Homo sapiens: one gene and its partner. The protein of the gene in region 1 purifies or fractionates together with the protein of each later gene. This does not show direct contact. Each region holds a gene or a part of one and is shown on either strand. Other genes may lie near its edges. The genes, in order: SHPK and LRP4.

Evidence for each region.
Region 2: the proteins of SHPK (region 1) and LRP4 purify together in Homo sapiens (affinity purification with mass spectrometry; one large-scale study listed by BioGRID and IntAct). This does not show direct contact.

Annotation. Positions count from the first base shown.
Region 1 is NC_000017.11:3,622,674-3,626,484, reverse strand, and holds part of SHPK (sedoheptulokinase), read left to right. Parts: intron 1-2,253; coding exon 2,254-2,437; intron 2,438-2,993; coding exon 2,994-3,146; intron 3,147-3,811. UniProt on the Homo sapiens protein: Acts as a modulator of macrophage activation through control of glucose metabolism.
Region 2 is NC_000011.10:46,894,289-46,898,099, reverse strand, and holds part of LRP4 (low-density lipoprotein receptor-related protein 4 precursor), read left to right. Parts: intron 1-1,105; coding exon 1,106-1,231; intron 1,232-1,764; coding exon 1,765-1,890; intron 1,891-2,081; coding exon 2,082-2,216; intron 2,217-2,808; coding exon 2,809-2,934; intron 2,935-3,280; coding exon 3,281-3,511; intron 3,512-3,811. UniProt on the Homo sapiens protein: Mediates SOST-dependent inhibition of bone formation. Functions as a specific facilitator of SOST-mediated inhibition of Wnt signaling.

The DNA of each region.
Region 1 (3,811 bases):
CTCATACTCCCAAAGTGCTGGGATTACAGGTGTGAGCCACTGCGCCCGATGAGCTAAGAGGTATTGAGGATACAAACAGAAGCACTAGCATCTAAATCATAAGAGACCAGAAAGGGAAAAATAAAAATGGAGAGGAGGAAATCTTTGAAGAAATAATGGAGAAAAATTTCCTATAATTGACAACATAAGATAGAACACCCCAGCCTGAAAGGGCCCATAGAATGTCAAAGAGGAGATAAAGACAACCCCCAGCTAGATATATTCTAGTGAACTTTTAAGGATTTCAAAGACAGAATTCCAAAAGCTTACAGAGCAAAAGATCAGATCCCATATGAAAGAATAAGGATCAGATTGACATTAGATTTTTTTCAACAGCAGCATTCTGTGTGAAAAGACAATGGAGTAGCATTTTTTTGTTTGTTTTGTTTTTCTGAGATGGAGCCTCACTCTGTTGCCCAGGCTGGAGTGCAGTGGTGCGATCTCAGCTCACTGCAACCTCCGCCTACTGGGTTCAAGCGATTCTCCTGCCTCAGCCTCCGGAGTAGCTGGGATTACAGGCACCCGCTACCACACCTGGCTAATTTTTGTATTTTTTGTAGAGATGGGGTTTCGCCATGTTGTCCAGGCTGGTCTCGAACTCCTCACCTCAGGTGATCCGCCCACCTTGGCCTCCCGAAGTGCTGGGATTATAGGCGTGAGCCACCGTGCCTGACCAGGAGTAGTATTTTGATGACCTATTGCGGCACAACAAACTACCTCCAACCTAGTGACTGAAAGCAACAAGCATTTATCATCTGTCATGATTTTTTGGGTCAGGGGTTGGGCAGGGCTCAGCCCACTGCTGCTTCTGCATGGTGGTGGTGGAGGTTGCTTGTTAGTGTTCAACTGGTGGACAGACTGGTCCAGGGGGTCACGGTGGCTTTACTCAATGCCTGGTACCTTGGTGGGAAGGCTGGAGGCTGGGCTCACCTGGAAACGGTCTGCCGGCTGCTCTTTGCCCGTGGTCTCCTCAGCATGGCGGCCTCGGCGTAGTCGCACTTCTTACCTGAAGGCTGATTCCCCCAGAGAGACTGGTGTAAGAGGCTTGGGCGGGAGCTGCAGTACTTCTTATGACCTAGCCTTGGGAGTCCCAAGATGTGACTGCCTCCACATTCTCCTGGTCAAGCACGTCACCAAGGTGATTCTATATTCAAGGAAAGAGGATTCAGATGCCACCTCTTAATGGGAGGAGTAGTGAAGAATTTGCAACAATCGACCACAAAAAGTGCTTTTAAGCATTGAAGGGAAGGAACTTAGAACCAGACTATTATAACTAATCAAACTGGCATTTAAAGATGGGAACATGAGAAATATTTGGTGGCATCTGGGCCTTCAGACACTGCCTGGAAAGACTGACACTGAAATTGGCCTTGGGAGAAATCACTGAATAAGGGCAGAGAAAAATCCAGAGGATGTCACAAGGCACAAATGAAAAAAAATCTGACGGTCAGATGATTTTAAAGTAAATTTGGATGTCTAAAAATCAATCAGGGCCAGGTGCGGTGGCTCATGCCTGTAATCCTAGCACTTTGGGAGGCTGAGGTGGGTGGATTGCCTGAGCTCAGGAGTTCGAGACCAGCCTGGGCAGCATGATGAAACCCTGTCTCTACTGAAAGTCCAAAAAATTAGCTGGGCGTGGTGGCGTGGGCCTGTAGTCTCAGCTACTCGGGAGGCTGAAGCAGGAGAATCGCTTGAACCTGGGAGATGGAGGTTGCAGTGAGCCGGGATCATGCCACTGCATTCCAACCTGGGGGACACAATGAGACTCTGTCTGAAAAAATTAAAATAAAATAAAATAAAATAAAACGCAATCAGCTAAGAACTAAGGAAAAGAGAAAATTTACTGGTAATCAAGTAGCAGTAAGCCTAGATAATGTCATGATGAGGGTTGGAGGGACAGAGACCAGGGGACTTGAGATTGTGCCAAACATCTTCTGAGATGTGGGGAGATATGATATCAACTTCAAAAAAGAATAAAAACAAACAGAGAAGTGGGGCAAATGGAGGGAGTATGTGACGTGCCCAGGGTCCCACAGTCATTATGTGGTAGAGCCAAGTACTAAAGCCAGTGCTATCAGGACCCATAGGTGTGCCAGGCTTTATCATGGGACGATTCGCACATATTTTGTCACTCACCAGCAGAGTAGTATCAAGGCCGCGCCATGCCTAGTCATTTGCTCTTTTCTTCATTTTTGGTCATCTCTTTTGTTCCAGGCTGTGAATGGACAGAGGGAGGGATTACCCCGGTGTTCGAGCCCCGAGCTGTTAGCCACCTGGTCACGTGGCAGGATGGCCGATGTAGCAGCGAATTCCTGGCCTCTCTGCCCCAGCCGAAGTCTCATCTCAGTGTGGCCACGGGCTTCGGCTGTGCAACCATCTTCTGGCTTTTGAAATATCGGTACGGGCAACTGCACTTTCACTCGGGTGCTGGGTTTCCGGGAGAATGAGAATAGGCCGGGGCTGCGTCAGCATCACCCCGCCTGCTGGGCTGTGCCGCAGTGAGTGTGTCCTGGCAGGACAGGATGCAGCATGGCCTGGACCTCGATTGGGTCCAGAACCACGTCCTTTTGCAGAGGGCTCTCTATTGGTTATCCAGTTCCCACCCACATAGGGAAAGGAGGGAACAGAGAGGGCAAGTGACTTGCCGAGGGTCACGGGGAGAGTTCGCAGTGTGTTCAGGCCTGCGAGGCTGCTGAGGAGGCTGACGTCTGCTTTTCCAGGCTTGACACTTCCTCCTCTCAGGCCCTTCCCCTGGGGCTGACTTAGGCTGGCTTTGCTTGGGGCAGCTGGGAGGTCCTAATCCCAGGGACCCAGCTGGACTTGAGCCATAGTATATGCGGTTGTGGCTGCCACCTGGCCATGGCACAGCTGGTCCCTGCTGCCTGCAGCTAGGTGCGGCACATGCTTCCGAGTTCATGTTATACCGTGTTGGTTGTTTTTGGTATGAAAAACAGCCCAGAGTTCCTGAAGTCCTACGACGCAGCCGGTACCATCCACGACTATGTGGTTGCCATGCTGTGTGGCTTGCCAAGACCTCTGATGTCCGACCAGAATGCTGCCAGCTGGGGCTATTTCAACACGCAGAGCCAAAGCTGGAACGTAGAGACGTGAGTATCACATCCTTGCAGGCTGTTCCTCCTGCTCCAATCTGAAGGGCAACCCCGGAGCCAGTGCTTCAGTGGGTGCTTTCCCATCTGGGAGTGGTGGAGGGTTCCCAGAGGCCAGGATCAGGGTCCAGTGCCCCTGGCCTGTCCCAGACACGGGGCATGGATGGGCCCAGTGTAAGCACAGCCCTGAGCCCTTGGGTAGGGGCCTCAGCCATGCTGTCCTGCTCCTCCACAGCCGCCCAGACCCCAGGTGGGCTCTCCCTTCTCTGTGACCATGAGCCCAGTCTGTAGGTTTCAGAGTACAGCTTTCACTCTTTAATACTTAAACTTAGAGAGCCAGGCGCGGTGGCTCATGCCTGTAATCCCAGCACTTTGGGAGGCTGAGGCGGGTGAATCACCTGAGGTCAGGAGTTCGAGACCAGCCTGGGCAACATGGCGAAACCCCATCTCTACTAAAAATACAAAAATTAGCTGGGCGTGGTGGAGTGCGCCTGTAATCCCAGCTACTCTGGAGGCTGAGGCAGGAGAATCACTTGAACCTGGGAGGCGGAGGTTGCGGTGAGCCGAGATTGCACCACGGCACTCCAGCCTGGGGGACAGAGCGAGACTCTTGTCTCAAAAAAAAAAAAAAAGAAAAAAGAACTAGAGATAGTAGGCTTGAAGGA
Region 2 (3,811 bases), on another chromosome or scaffold:
CCCCCGCCCGGTCAGCCACCCCGTCCGGGAGGGAGGTGGGGGGGTCAGCCCCCCGCCCGGCCAGCCGCCCCGTCCGGGAGGGAGGTTGGGGGGTCAGCCCCCCGCCCGGCCAGCCGCCCCGTCCGGGAGGTGAGGGGCGCCTCTGCCCGGCCGCCCCTACTGGGAAGTGAGGAGCCCCTCTGCCAGGCCACCACCCCGTCTGGGAGGTGTACCCAACAGCTCATTGAGAACGGGCCATGATGACAATGGCGGTTTTGTGGAATAGAAAGGAGGGAAAGGTGGGGAAAAGATTGAGAAATCGGATGGTTGCCGTGTCTGTGTAGAAAGAAGTATACATGGGAGACTTTTCATTTTGTTCTGTACTAAGAAAAATTCTTCTGCCTTGGGATCCTGTTGATCTGTGACCTTACCCCCAACCCTGTGCTCTCTGAAACATGTGCTGTGTCCACTCAGGGTTAAATGGATTAAGGGCGGTGCAAGATGTGCTTTGTTAAACAGATGCTTGAAGGCCGCATGCTCGTTAAGAGTCATCACCACTCCCTAATCTCAAGTACCCAGGGACACAAACACTGCGGAAGGCCGCAGGGTCCTCTGCCTAGGAAAACCAGAGACCTTTGTTCACTTGTTTATCTGCTGACCTTCCCTCCACTATTGTCCTATGACCCTGCCAAATCCCCCTCTGCGAGAAACACCCAAGAATGATAATAAAAAAATTAAAAAATAAAAAAAAATAAAAATAAAAAAATAAAAAGAAAAAAAAAAAAAGACAAACAGGCCACTACCCATAAATCTTGAAGACACTGGGTAAGACCACCACCATGTACAGTTGTGTAGGTTGTGCACTGTGCAGAGGCAATATGTCCAAAGGGAAGCCAGTCACATAATAGATTTATATACTCATCATGGCAGTTTTCCAGCAGATGGCAGTAAAGTGTCTTGAGGAAAGGATACTTTTTTCTGATTCACACAAAGACACTATATAGACCAGCTGTGATCCCGGTGTCAAGAGTGGCATGGGTACTGATATAAGCTGCAGATTTGGGTGGCAGGGAGAATTTCAGGCTGAAATGGGGCCCACCTTTCATTAAGCCTTTGCTTTGCCCAGCCACCTCCATGTGTACGGCAGAACAGTTCCGCTGTCACTCAGGCCGCTGTGTCCGCCTGTCCTGGCGCTGTGATGGGGAGGACGACTGTGCAGACAACAGCGATGAAGAGAACTGTGAGAATACAGGTGGTGTCTCCCGGGGTGCCCCAGAACCCTTAGCCTATAGTTGGGGTGGAAGGGTGGAAAAGAGGGTGCTTTGGTATCTTTCCAGTTGGGTTGAGGTTTTACCAGTGTAAAATCCAGGTGCATCATTGACCTGCGGCCTTATGGCCTGGAGCACAGTATCAGAGCTGCGAGTTTCAATTGCCACTCCTATTCTAACTCACACACAGCCAGTGCCTTTAGCTCTGGTCTAGTGAGGAAGGACTACCCTCCATCTGGCAGCCCCCATGTGTGCTCCCCTGGCCACACCCAGTATTGAGCATGTGGTTGCACTTTTTCATTCTGTTCCATATTCCTCACCATCCCACTGTGGAGTCCTGGGGAGAAAGCAAATGCAGACATTCAGCCAGCCCTGTCTGAGCTGCTTCCTGCCCAGGACCCTCACCCTCCCACCTTGAGTCTCATCTGTCTCCAGCTTACCCTAGAAAATGACAGGCTCCCATCTCTTTGTTGGCCCAAGCCCTGCCTTGCTATGACCTGACCCTCCATCTCTCTAGGAAGCCCCCAATGTGCCTTGGACCAGTTCCTGTGTTGGAATGGGCGCTGCATTGGGCAGAGGAAGCTGTGCAACGGGGTCAACGACTGTGGTGACAACAGCGACGAAAGCCCACAGCAGAATTGCCGTGAGTGTCCCCAGTGGGCGGACCTGGCCCATGGTTTGTGGCCGAACCCCACCCATAGGGTTCAAAGGGAATCCTCCCTCAGGACTCTTGCAGCTTTGGGAGCTGTTCTTTGTGGTCCAGGTGGAATGCCAAGTTGGCTCTCTGGGGGAGGATTCTGGGCTCAACTCCCAACTCTGGCTTGGCTGGCACAGGGCCCCGGACGGGTGAGGAGAACTGCAATGTTAACAACGGTGGCTGTGCCCAGAAGTGCCAGATGGTGCGGGGGGCAGTGCAGTGTACCTGCCACACAGGCTACCGGCTCACAGAGGATGGGCACACGTGCCAAGGTGAGCTGGGGCCTGGTTTGCAGCAGAGTCGGGGTTCTGAGCAGGGGCAGCAGACAGGCAGCTGTGTTTCCTATGGGTCAGGCATTTGAACGGTGTGACCTCATTTCGTCCTCACAATAACCCTAGGAGGTGGGGATCATCCTTCCCATTTCACAGATGGGGAGACTGAAGCACAGAGAGGATAAGTAGCTTACCAAAGGCCACACAGCTGGCGAGTAGCAGAGTTGGGATTCCAGCCCAGGTCTGCATGACCTTAAAGCCCTTAACCATTTCTTCTTTTTTATTTTTTATTTTTATTTTTTTGAGATGGAGCCTCGCTCTGTCGCCCAGGCTGGAGTGCAGTGGTGCGATCTCGGCTCACTGCAGCCTCCGCCTCCTGGGTTCAAGCCATTCTCCTGCCTCAGCCTCTTGAGTAGCTGGGACTACAGGTGTGCGCCACCACGCCCGGCCGCCCTTAACCATTTCTTAGACAGCCTTCCCACTAGGCCTGGAAAGTAGATGGGGATGTGGGCAGAAAAGCAGCTCGGCAGCCTGGGAGCGGGAGTGGGAGGACGACAGAAGGGAGATCTCTTGACCTGCCTGGTGTTCCCAGATGTGAATGAATGTGCCGAGGAGGGGTATTGCAGCCAGGGCTGCACCAACAGCGAAGGGGCTTTCCAATGCTGGTGTGAAACAGGCTATGAACTACGGCCCGACCGGCGCAGCTGCAAGGCTCTGGGTAAGGGCTGTTGGCACTTGGCTGGGTGGGCAGAGGGCCGAGCATGGAGGAAGGCCAGGTACTCTGGTGCTCAGGGATTTGCAGAGAGGTAGAGAGATTTCTGTCACAGTAAAATGCAGCAACAGTTGCATTCTGAGCCCCAAGAAAAATGCTGCTGGGGTGGAGTGGGGTGGGGAGGGGTGGAGGAATATAGTTTAAAGGTTGCCACTCTTCTGGTACTGATGCTGACAGCTTGGGGCATGTCCTTGTGAGCAAGTGGCTCCATCGGTCAGCTGAAGACCTGCTGATGGGTACCAGGGGCGGCTCTGAAACCCAGTGGGTATCCCATGTTTATACTGTTTCCCAGGGCCAGAGCCTGTGCTGCTGTTCGCCAATCGCATCGACATCCGGCAGGTGCTGCCACACCGCTCTGAGTACACACTGCTGCTTAACAACCTGGAGAATGCCATTGCCCTTGATTTCCACCACCGCCGCGAGCTTGTCTTCTGGTCAGATGTCACCCTGGACCGGATCCTCCGTGCCAACCTCAACGGCAGCAACGTGGAGGAGGTTGTGTCTACTGGGCTGGAGAGCCCAGGTAGGGAACAAGGCCCCATGGAGAGGGGCAGAGCCATGCCACATGCGCAGCAACGGTGGGAGGAATAGGCCAGTGGTTTGCAAACCTTAGGCAGCAGGACATCTTTTTCTTCCAGGGAAATCTTAGTTGGAGCCCTAATATAGAAAACATTTGTTAATGTATATCAATTTTATAGGTTCAAATATAACATTTGCTCATGATTGAGCTCAATCAGTGAGAATAATGAGACCACGTTGGTGGTTGTGATCATGGGAATCAGATTTATGGATGACAGAGTTCTCCATCAGCCTTTGCATCTAG